Homo sapiens: one gene and its partners. The protein of the gene in region 2 purifies or fractionates together with the protein of the main gene of each other region. This does not show direct contact. Each region holds a gene or a part of one and is shown on either strand. Other genes may lie near its edges.

Region 1 (3,653 bases), on a different chromosome or scaffold from region 2:
AAGGGAGGCTGGGTGTAGTGGCTCACACATGTAATCCTAGCACTGTAGGAGGCCAAGGCTGGCAGATCCTGTATTAGTCCGTTCTCAGGCTGCTATAAAAGACATACCTGAGACCGGGTAATTTATAAAAGAAAGAGGTTTAATTGACTCACAGTTCAGCCAACTGGAGAGGCCTCAGGAAACTTACAACCATGGTGGAAGGGGAAGCAAACACGTTTTTCACATAGCGGCAAGAGAGAGAAGTGCAGTGAGAAGCAGCAGGAAAGCATCTTAGAAAACCATCAGATCTCACGAGAACTCACTCACTATCACAAGAACAACATGGAGGTAACCGCCCCCATGATTCACCTACCTCCCGGTGGGTCTCTCCCATGACACATGGGGATTATGGGAACTACAATTCAAGATGAGATTTGGGTGGGGACACAGCCAAACCATATCAGATCCCTTTGAGCCCAGGAGTTCAGATCCCTTCAGACCAATCTGGGCAGCATGGCAAAACCCCGTCTCTACAAAAAAAACGAAGAAATTTGCAAGGCATGGTGGTGCACACCTCTAGTCTCTACTACTTGGGAGGCTGAGGCGAGAGGATCACTTGAGTCCAGGAGGTTGAGGCTGCGGTGAGCCATGCTCGTGTCACTGCACTCCAGTCAGGGTGACAGAGGGAGACCATGTCTTGAAAAATAAATAAATAAATAAATAAGTGGAAATTATACGAAGAAAAATCATTAAAAATCTTAATTATGAAGGAAATTAGAAGTTCAAAGGAAGATTAGTGGGTTTATTGAAAGTGTAAATTTGTTTCATACTCACTGAATTCACCCAGCAGTCTCAAGGAAATATTTAACATCAACAAGTACTTATATATTGGTGCTGTATTAACTTTTAATTAGAAAGTCATGGTCTCTATCCAAAGAAATGTATATAATTAATACATTCCCAGTGTTAAATATAACCTGTTTTTTAGGTTAAGCAACTATTGCATAGCATTCAGTTGGTGTTATTGCCACATCTGCATTTAACTGGCTGTTTCTACAACTCTTACTACGTTGAATATAAAAGCTCACTGATCATGCAGATATATATATAATATATATACATATATACATATAAAATAAATAAATCCTAATGGAGTATTTAACTCTAGCTACACCTAGGACTATGAATATTCCTACAGATTTAAAAGATATTATTTGGAGCATATGTATGGAATGAATGTTTTCAAAACATGGGAATGCAAATGATCTTCATTCATAAATGAACTAATTGTTCTTAATGTTATTGAATATCATTTCCTAGTTACAGAGCTGGGGAAAAGAATTAAATCTATCTATCTATCCATATATCCATCTGTTATTATGTATCAGTTCTGGCTGTGCACATTTTTATATTTTCTAGATAAATGTTTTATTTTAGCCACATGGTGTTTTTTTCTTTTAAAAAAAAAAAGCAAAACTGGGTAATCAATTGTGAGAAAATGAAAAGGACCTTCCCATGCCACTATAAAAGTATGCCATATCTTGGCTCAGATCCAATTCTGCTGAATATTCATTAGTGAGTATACCTAAATGGCTTCATTGTCAATGTTTATCTGTAAAACCATATCTTTTCATTATTCGCATTATCATTAACAAATACACATGATGTGTATGATGAGTACAAAATAGAATACAACTATAATTGACTATCTGTAACGTAAAAATATGGAATTTGTATCATTTTATGTAAAACTACTGCATCATTAAGTATAAAGCTTCCTTCCCTTTTAATGTAAGTTTTAAAAACCAGTGTTACATACACAAATCTTTGCATTTGGTATTTTGTCCTAATTAGAGAAATCATATGATAATTACCCTACTTAACAAATGAATAGGCCAGGAGTAGTGGCTCAGCCTGAAATCCTAGCACTTTGGGAAGCCAAGGTGGTGGATTGCCTGAGCTCAGGAGTTTGAACCAGCCTGGCCAACATGGTGAAACCCTGCCTCTTCTAAAAAGACAAAATTATCTGGGCATGGTGACACATGCCTGTAATCCGAGCTACTTGGGAGGCTGAGGCAGGAGAATCACTTGAACACGGCAGGCAGAAGTTGCAGCGAGCCGAGATCGCACCACTGTACTCCAGACTGGGCAACAGAGCAGTCTCTGTCTCAAAATAAATAAATAAATAACTAAATAAAAATAAGGAGCAAATTCCTTTAGAAGTATAATTTATTGCTTATTCCAGCTTACTTTGGTGTGAACCAGGGAAGAGGAGAAGTTAGAAAAGAAGAAGAAACTGACAAACATGAAAACCTTAAATCTCTTGTCAACAAATATTGGAAGTGGCAGCAAAAAAATTGTATATAAACATTAGATATATGAAGCAAACATGTTTTTAAATCCAACCTTCATTATGAATATAAATATTCTATAACTTTCATTCCAAAAGAATCATGAGCATGTGAGAATCAATTTCTGCACAGCAGCAATGAAAAGTTATTGAAATAAATCACTTTGTCTTTTCTCTCAGGATTGACATCTTTAAGTATGTGATCTACGGCATCGCAGCTGCGTTCTTTGTGTATGGCATTTTGCTGATGGTGGAAGGTTTCTTCACAACTGGGGCCATCAAAGATCTCTATGGGGATTTCAAAATCACCACTTGTGGCAGATGTGTGAGCGCTTGGGTATGTTAGTTCTCTACATTCAGTATTTAATGTGGATTGATTTCAATAGCACACAGGTGTTTGCATTCATCTCCCAAGAATTAAAGTATTTTTTTTTCACACAGTAACGTTTCCTTCTGTGATGCTATCTTAAATCTTGATAACATTATTTTTGAAATTAAGATTATTCCTTGTGAAAATTCAGTTTCAAATACTCAGATTCTATGTAGCACAACTAGTTTTGTTTCTAGAGGTAGCAACACTGTTGATTGATGTATGGTTTTTTTTTTCCAAAGGGCTCTGTGATTCTCTTGAGAATCACAGAAAAATTCATCTCCAATTTATAAGCAATACATGTGCCTGTCTCCTGTTAAACATATGTCTCTGTATTTTACTGTAAATTTGAGGACAGCTATATCATATGATTTCTGTTTTCTATTAATTTAAGAATTCTATTAATTTCAGCATTAAATTTTAATTTATATAATATTTAATGGCAAATCAAACTTATAGTCTTACTCTACAGTTTTGTAATACAGACAATGCGTATCTATCTATTAATGCATGAGTGGTGAAAATGAAAAATAATAAGGTTGAAAGTACTTTTGCACTTTTATACAGAATAATTTTTCTAGAATGAAATGTTGAAGCTTCCATTCTTGACAGACATATTTTCCTTTTTTCTAATGTTATGTAACAACATGTGTCTAATTATAGCATATAATTCATGTTAAGTAAGCTGTCTCTAATAAGGACTGATGTAAATTACTTCAATCTCACAGAAATGTTCAAAAATGCCTGTTTACCAGCAAACCTTTTTTATTTTAACCTGTTTCTAACACATTTTATTATGCTTCTTGGTGTCAACAGCAACAATAATCTGATAAGATAGTTTGCCTGAGTTGTGGGTATTTGTAGTGGTCTCTGGAATTATTTCTTATAAGAATCATCTGTTTTTAGTTTGGGACAAAACTTATTGTAACACCCAAAGAGATAAAATATATGAGT
Region 2 (3,618 bases):
CTTGAGGGCAGGAGGAGGAGTAGGAGGAGGAGGCGGCGGCCATTTGGGCTAGGACAGTAAAGGCAGGTGAGGGTGGGGGCCCTGGCTGGCTGGAGGAGATTGTATAAAAGAAAACACGTGACACAAGGAGGGGAGCAGGCAGGTGTTTTAGGAAAGGTCTGGTCCAGGCAGGAAGGTGGGATGTTTATTCCAGAGCAAAATGGCCTTCGTCCGTCTGTTCTAACCGCCATGCCCACTTCTTCCACAGAACTACAATTACAACCAGCATGCGTATCCCACTGCCTATGGTGGGAAGTACTCAGTCAAGACCCCTGCAAAGGTGAGACCGGCAACCACCCTGTCTTCCCGCTGGGGGCTCTGCATGAGGGATGGGGAGAGAGGCTTTCACTGCCGGGGTCCTCTCGGTTGGTTGCCGGAGGCCGGATCCCGCTCTCTTTGAGTCCAGGCCTCCCCACCCCTTTGCAAGGGAGACTCGGGTTCCCTGAGACAGTTTGGAAGTGGAGGGCAGGAGGGTTCAATGCGCCTCACACCCACCCAGTCAGAAAAGGTTAAAAAGGAGCAGCAGCAGCAACAGAGAAAACTGAGAACCAACACCCTCTCCAAGAAGAATATAGGCTTTAAAAAATCATGACACCTGCAAAACACGCAAGCAGCTCTTCCTCACAGGTTCCCTCTCTGTGGACCTTTTTTTGCGGGGGAAGATGGAATGGAGGGCGAGGAAAGCAGACTAGCACTTAGGGGAGGCCGGCCTGTGGATGCCTGGTTGGCGGTGAAATGAATGCTTTATTCCACAAAGGAAATGAAAAGAAAAAATACGTGAGAATTTGGTTTTATTCCGTTGCAAAGAAGGCAATCTCATAACATCAGTAAATGAATATGCTAAGTACAAATTTGGCTGACAAAGCAACAGCAGGCTGTGTATTTCCATCTCTCATGACAATAAAGTCCCCGCCCTTGGGGAGAGGACCTTCCACTGAGGGACGAGAAACTACAGGCTGGTGAGAGGAGGGACATGCAGCTTCTACTGCCTGTGGCTTCCACTCTGCTGAGTTATCTGTGGCTTCCACTCTGCCGGGTTATCTGTGGTCAGTGTCTCCCTACCTGGCAGGCCAAAGCGAGGCCTATGCTCTTTTGACCCCCTTGGTCAGTACGTGCCCAGGAACCATGTTCAATATCATCTTGGATCAAGTGCACTCAGGATGATAAACGTGCTGTGAAACCAACTCCACAGCCTGAATGTCCACAGTCAGACTGGAAAACCTTGGTGATAGCCCTGGTGTGAGCCTGCCCTTGCTGCTGGGCCCTTCATGAGCGTGGAGGCCATGGCAGAGTACAGGGAGGCCATGACCCCACATCACTTTCCTTTGATCTTTTTGCAGGGGGGAGTCTCACCTTCTTCCTCGGTGAGTATGGGGGCCTGATCTTCATCTGGCTGGAGAGAGAAGGGGCCTGAGGCCAGAGGGTATGGAAGGGACCCTGTGGTGGCCACTCAGACTTTCTCTTTTTCTGGCAGGCTTCCCGGGTGCAACCTGGCCTGCTGCAGTGGGTGAAGTTTTGGTAGGTGAGTGTCAGAGTGAGCCGACCCAGGCCACATCCTGGCAGTGGAGGCACAGTCACCCGGGGCAGGGCCAGGATCTTGGTATATCCTCAGATCTCAGTGGGCAGCGACATGAAGTCAGGTATGCTCTGGGTGCGTGCTCTAAAGGTGATAAGGAAGAGGGGACCTCATGGTGGGGTGTGGAGAAAGACCCATAATAAAGTGATCTAGGGCTGGGTGCAGTGGCTCATGCCTGTAATCTCTGTGCTTTGGGAGGCTGGGGTGGGAGGATCACTTGAGTCTGGGAGTTTGAGACCAGACTGGGCAATATAGCAAGACCCCATCTCTAAAAGAACAAAACAAAACAAACCAAAACAAAACAAACCATTCCAGCCTGGGAAACATGGCAAAACCCCGTCTACTAAAAATACAAAAAATTAGCCAGGTGAGGTGGTGCATGATTGTAATCCCAGCTACTCTGGAGGCTGAGGTGGGAGAATCACCTGAGCTTGGGAGGTTGAGGCTGCTGCGAACTGCGATTGCACCGCTGCACTCCAGCCTGGGCAATCACAGTGAGACCTTGTCTCAAAACAAACAAACAAACAAATGAAAAACCTTAGCCAGGCATGGTGACACATGCCTGTAGTTCTAGCTACTTGGAAGGCAGAGGCAGGAAGATCGCTTGAGCCCAGGAGTTCAAAACTGCAGTGAGCTATGATCACACCATTGCACTCCAAGTCTGGGCAACAGAGGGAGACCCTGTCTGGAAAGAAAGAGAGAAAGAGAGAGAGAGAGAAAGAGGGAAAGAAAGCAAGCAAGAGAGAAAGAAGAAAGAAAATGACCTAGGACCCTCGGAAAGCACCTTAGGGTGGGACCACATAGGCACAGCTCTGAGAAGATGGTGTTCTAGATGGAGCACAGGGACCGGGATAGAGATGTTACAGGGGAACTGTGGAGAAAAGAGCCTCCTGGTGGAAGGGTTCAGAGGTGGGACGCAGCGAGGCTGCATGGGCGAGAGGTGATAGCTTGGCTCGGCAGAACCACAAACTCTGTTTTAGGCGGAGCAAAAGTGAGGGGCACCACAGGCGAACAGGTAGGACAGCAAAAGAATGGTGGGTGCCCAGACGCTGGGTGAAAAGATGCCCCGTTTCCGCAGGCTTAGGAGTGGCCACGTGCTACCATTTGATTTTCTTTCTTCTAGGCAATTTCTTGCAACCACCACCGAGGCCCCGAAAAGCACTGGTCGTCAGGGAGCTCCTCCCCTTGGCCCCCAGCCTGTGCCAGCCCTGGCCCGGCTGCCACACCTCTGTTTCCTAGGCTGGGGACCCAGCTTGTCTCTCCTTGTTTCTTCCCACTGCACTGTGGTGCTTCAGTGGCCACCAGCCTCGTCACATACACCAGCATCTTTCTGTACCTCCTCCCTTTGGTGACCTGAAGTCACTGTGACAGTTCTCCAGGAAGGAGGAGCTTCCTACTTTTGAGTTTCTCTGTGGAAATAAAACATGAATCTTGTTTCCCTACGACTTTCTCAAATTTTATTCTTTAATGCTATGTTGATGGCCTGGCTCAGGGAGGATGGAAGAGTGATTCAGGGGCAGCTAATCTGCCTTCTGCCTGAAACTGGTATAAAGCACAGAGGCTGAGAGAGATGAGACCTGGGTTTTATTTCTGACAAGAAGCCTGCATTGTGCCTCAGTTTCCTCATCTGTTAAAAAAAAAAATCATTGCCCAACCTATATCTGAATACCATTCTTTTTTTAGAGACTCAATCTCACTCTGTGGCCCAGGCTAGAGTGCAGTGGCACGATGTCGGCTCACTGCAACCTCCGCCTCCTGGATTCATGCAATTCTCCTGCTTCAGCCTCCTGAGTAGCTAGGATTACACGCATGCGCCACCACACCTGGCTAATTTTTGTATCTTTAGTACAGATGGGGTTTCACCATGTTGGCCAGGGTGTTCTTGAACTCCTGACCTCAGGTGATCTACCCGCCTCAGCCTCCCAAAGTTGCTGGGATTACAGGCGGAAGCCACCATGCCCGGCTTGAATACTGTTCTTTTTTTTTTTTTCTTGAGACGGAGT
Region 3 (3,653 bases), on a different chromosome or scaffold from region 2:
TGTCAGATTTGGTGTGCTAACTACTCTGTTATTTACAGTGATCCTTACTGAGCACTCATCCCTTGCTATTACTTTAAAAGTTTTGCCCCCACATTGTGGTTTACCTGAATTCTTTATGCAAATTGCTACCAAGATGATATAACACAAATGTGCATTTATTTTTTATGGATTTGTCATCCAGCTAAGTTGAATGTCAGTTTCATACATGACTTCACATTGCAGATACCTAAGCCACTCTAGAGTGCTAATACTTCCTAAGCAAATGAGCAAGACCTCCCTTGAACATGGTTTTAACTTCTGGAAACACGATAGATGCATAGATACCAGTGGAAACATTCCCAGGCATAATTTTTCATTTCCTGTTCTCAACTTTTCACTCCACCCTTTCTCTCCCACTACAGAAAGCAAATTCATTTTTTTAAAAATCAGTAGAATACATTAAAAATGTGCTTAGAAGAGATAAACCCACTCCACATTAACTAATCCTTGACATTCATGACATATATGACACTTGAAATATCAAATTCTCAAGAAGTTATCACTCCCTAAAAATCTATTAAATACTGGATGGCTTCAGTGAAACACAAGTTGCTCTAAACATCAGCAACTAACAGAAACAAGTTTTTGGTGAATCAATAATATAGCAATGTGGTCATTCTGTGAACTGATTTTTGGCAAATTGTCCTACAGCCTAAGAATGTCCTGTACTTGTTATAAAGGAAAATCATAACATCAAAGGAAGTAAGTACAGACTTCTCAAGGAGCCAGGCAACTGGACCTGGGTAAACAAGAGTATCCAGAACAAGGGAAATCCAGGAAGACTTGGTATGAAGCTAGATAGAGCAGGCCTCTGTTGGACATGTCAGCATAAGATTGCTGGATTCTAGAACCCTTGTCTGAGATAACAATTTGCCGATACTATGACTTCACCATGAGGAATAGGAGAGCAACCAGGAGCTGCCTGTGGCCAGAGCCATGCTGCATTCATCTGGGTGCCCCCAGCATCTCTCACGGCATCTGGCACATGGTACTACATAAGCATGTGCTGAACTAGATGAAGAAAGAAGACAGTGGTGAAAAGATCTGAGCCACAGCAGAAGCCCCAAGTCGCCTAGAGGCAATCAAAGCGAGAGTGGGATGTCATGATGTGACAATGAGTTATGACCCATGAGCCCTCCTTCCTACAATGCTCAGTAATCTCAAAGCTGAAACAGCACTATGCCAGAGATGAAAAATCGACATTTCTGTCTGGATCCTAAGATCTGAAAGTGGAAAAGTAATACAAGGCAGTGAGGAGTCTAGAAAATAGGTCTCCTCAAAATGGGTAAAGGATCTGGAAATGTTGAATCTGGAGAAGAAAAATCTAAGGGAAGAAACAATTACTGTTGGTTTACTTGTTCACTCATTCTTTCATTTATGTCTCGTCTTTAAGTTTTGGCTCAAATGTCATTTCTATTTCTATCATAACCACCCTAGTTAAAACTGTATCCACTCCTAGAATTCCTAACATGCCACCTCCTGCTCCATTTTTATAGCATTTATCATCTTTAGTATACTACATCATTTTCTTACTGATATAGTCAAAAAGATTACATTTAGAGTCTGTTCCTCTCCCCGAAACTGAATGCAAGGGCAGGGGATTCTGTGTGTTTGAGTCACTGCTGTGCTCCAGCATCTAGAACAGTGCCTGGCTCTAGTAGTGGGCATCTGATGACTAAAGGAATGAATGAATCCAAACCTTTGGAACCTGAGGTACCCGGATAGGAGCCAAATGCTGAAAATCTGCAAGGTAAATAAGCAATGATCACTCTCCTGGGGAAAGTTAGGGCCTTGTGGGAGATGAAGACTTATAAAATTATCCATTATAGTAAGAACAGTTAAGTACTGTTATTCCCAAGCTGTGAACAAAGTCCTGTGATAACTCAGAGAGCTTAAACAACAAGCTCTGCCTAAAATACCTAAGGATTCAGTGTGGAAGTGACCCTTGATCAGCTCTTGAAGGACTTAGAGGTGGGGACTGGACAGCTAGAGCAATAAGGGAGGGCATTCCAAATGGAGAGAAGGGCCAGGCAAAGGTTCTTAGTCTTGACAGGGCCCAGTAGGTCTAGAGAACAGCAAGACTCTTAGAATGTCAGGACCTCTAGTGGAGTGAGGGGAAATCAGCAACTGTAAGAACAGGATGAAGACTGTCACCTGTCACCTACTTTCACTGCATGCCAAGCTCAAAGTCTGGATTTTACCCTACAGGCAATGGGGGAGCTATGGGCGGTGGGGGTGGGGAGTGGGAACAGGTGACATGAGTAGCTTGTTTTGCCAAGGAAGGTCATCCTAGCTGCAGCATGCAGAATGTACTAAAACAGGGAAGAGACTAGAGGCAGGAAGGTAAATTAAGAGGCTATTAGTGAACTAAGACAGCAGCCTGGGAATGGTGAGGCCTTCCAAGCAGAAGAAAGGCTCAGAGCTCGAACAAAAGGCAGCAGAAACCTCTGCAGACTTAAATGTCCCTGTCTGACAGCTTTGAAGAGAGTAGTGGTTCTCTCAGCACGGAGTTTCAGATCTAAGAACGGACAGCCTGCCTCCTCAAGTGGGTCCCTGACCCCTGAGTAGCCTAACTGGGAGGCACCCCCCAGTAGGGGCAGACTGATACCTCACATGGCCGGGTACCCCTCTGAGACGAAACTTCCAGAGGAACGATCAGGCAGCAACATTTGCTGTTCACCAATATTCCCCGTTCTGCAGCCTCCGCTGCTGATACCCAGGCAAACAAGGTCTGGAGTGGACCGCCAGCAAACTCCAACAGATCTGCAGCTGAGGGTCCTGACTGTTAAAAGGATAACTAACAAACAGAAAGGACATCCACACCAAAAACCCATCTGTACATCATCAGAGACCAAAGGTAGATAAAACCACAAAGATGGGGAAAAAACAGAGCAGAAAAACTGAAAATTCTAAAAATCAGAGTGCCTCTCCTCCTACAAAGGAATGCAGCTCCTCACCAGCAACGGAACAAAGCTGGATGGAGAATGACTTTGACGAGTTGAGAGAAGAAGGCTTCAGAAGATCAAACTTCTCTGAGCTAAAGGAGGAAGTTCGAACCCATCGCAAAGAAGTTAAAAACCTTGAAAAAAGATTAGACGAATGGCTAACTAGAATAACCAATGCAGAGAAGTACTTAAAGGACCTGATGGAGCTGAAAACCATGGCACGAGAACTACATGACGAATGCACAAGCTTCAGTAGCCGATTCGATCAACTGGAAGAAAGGGTATCAGTGATGGAAGATCAAATGAATGAAATGAAGTGAGAAGAGAAGTTTAGAGAAAAAAGAATAAAAAGAAACGAACAAAGCCTCCAAGAAATATGCGACTATGTGAAAAGACCAAATCTACATCTGATTGGTGTACCTGAAAGTGACGGGGAGAATGGAACCAAGTTGGAAAACACTCTGCAGGATATTATCCAGGAGAAGTTCCCCAACCTAGCAAGGCAGGCCAACATTCAAATTCAGGAAATACAGAGAATGCCATGAAGATACTCCTCAAAAACAGCAACTCCAAGACACATAATTGTCAGATTCACCAAAGTTGAAATGAAGGAAAAAATGTTAAAGGCAGCCAGAAAGAAAGGTCGGGTTACCCACAAAGGGAAGCCCG

Evidence for each region.
Region 1: the proteins of DMKN (region 2) and GPM6A purify together in Homo sapiens (co-immunoprecipitation; one large-scale study listed by IntAct). This does not show direct contact.
Region 3: the proteins of DMKN (region 2) and GOT1 purify together in Homo sapiens (affinity purification with mass spectrometry; one large-scale study listed by BioGRID and IntAct). This does not show direct contact.

The regions. Positions count from the first base shown.
Region 1 is NC_000004.12:175,672,693-175,676,345, reverse strand, and holds part of GPM6A (neuronal membrane glycoprotein M6-a), read left to right. Parts: intron 1-2,509; coding exon 2,510-2,666; intron 2,667-3,653. UniProt on the Homo sapiens protein: Involved in neuronal differentiation, including differentiation and migration of neuronal stem cells. Plays a role in neuronal plasticity and is involved in neurite and filopodia outgrowth, filopodia motility and probably synapse formation.
Region 2 is NC_000019.10:35,496,659-35,500,276, reverse strand, and holds the end of DMKN (dermokine isoform 2 precursor), read left to right. Parts: intron 1-247; coding exon 248-319; intron 320-1,379; coding exon 1,380-1,403; intron 1,404-1,513; coding exon 1,514-1,561; exon of another isoform or gene 1,562-1,679; intron 1,680-2,595; exon of another isoform or gene 2,596-2,630; intron 2,631-2,738; 3' UTR 2,739-3,057; downstream 3,058-3,618. UniProt on the Homo sapiens protein: May act as a soluble regulator of keratinocyte differentiation.
Region 3 is NC_000010.11:99,410,069-99,413,721, forward strand, and holds part of GOT1 (aspartate aminotransferase, cytoplasmic), read right to left. Parts: intron 1-3,653. UniProt on the Homo sapiens protein: Biosynthesis of L-glutamate from L-aspartate or L-cysteine. Important regulator of levels of glutamate, the major excitatory neurotransmitter of the vertebrate central nervous system. Acts as a scavenger of glutamate in brain neuroprotection.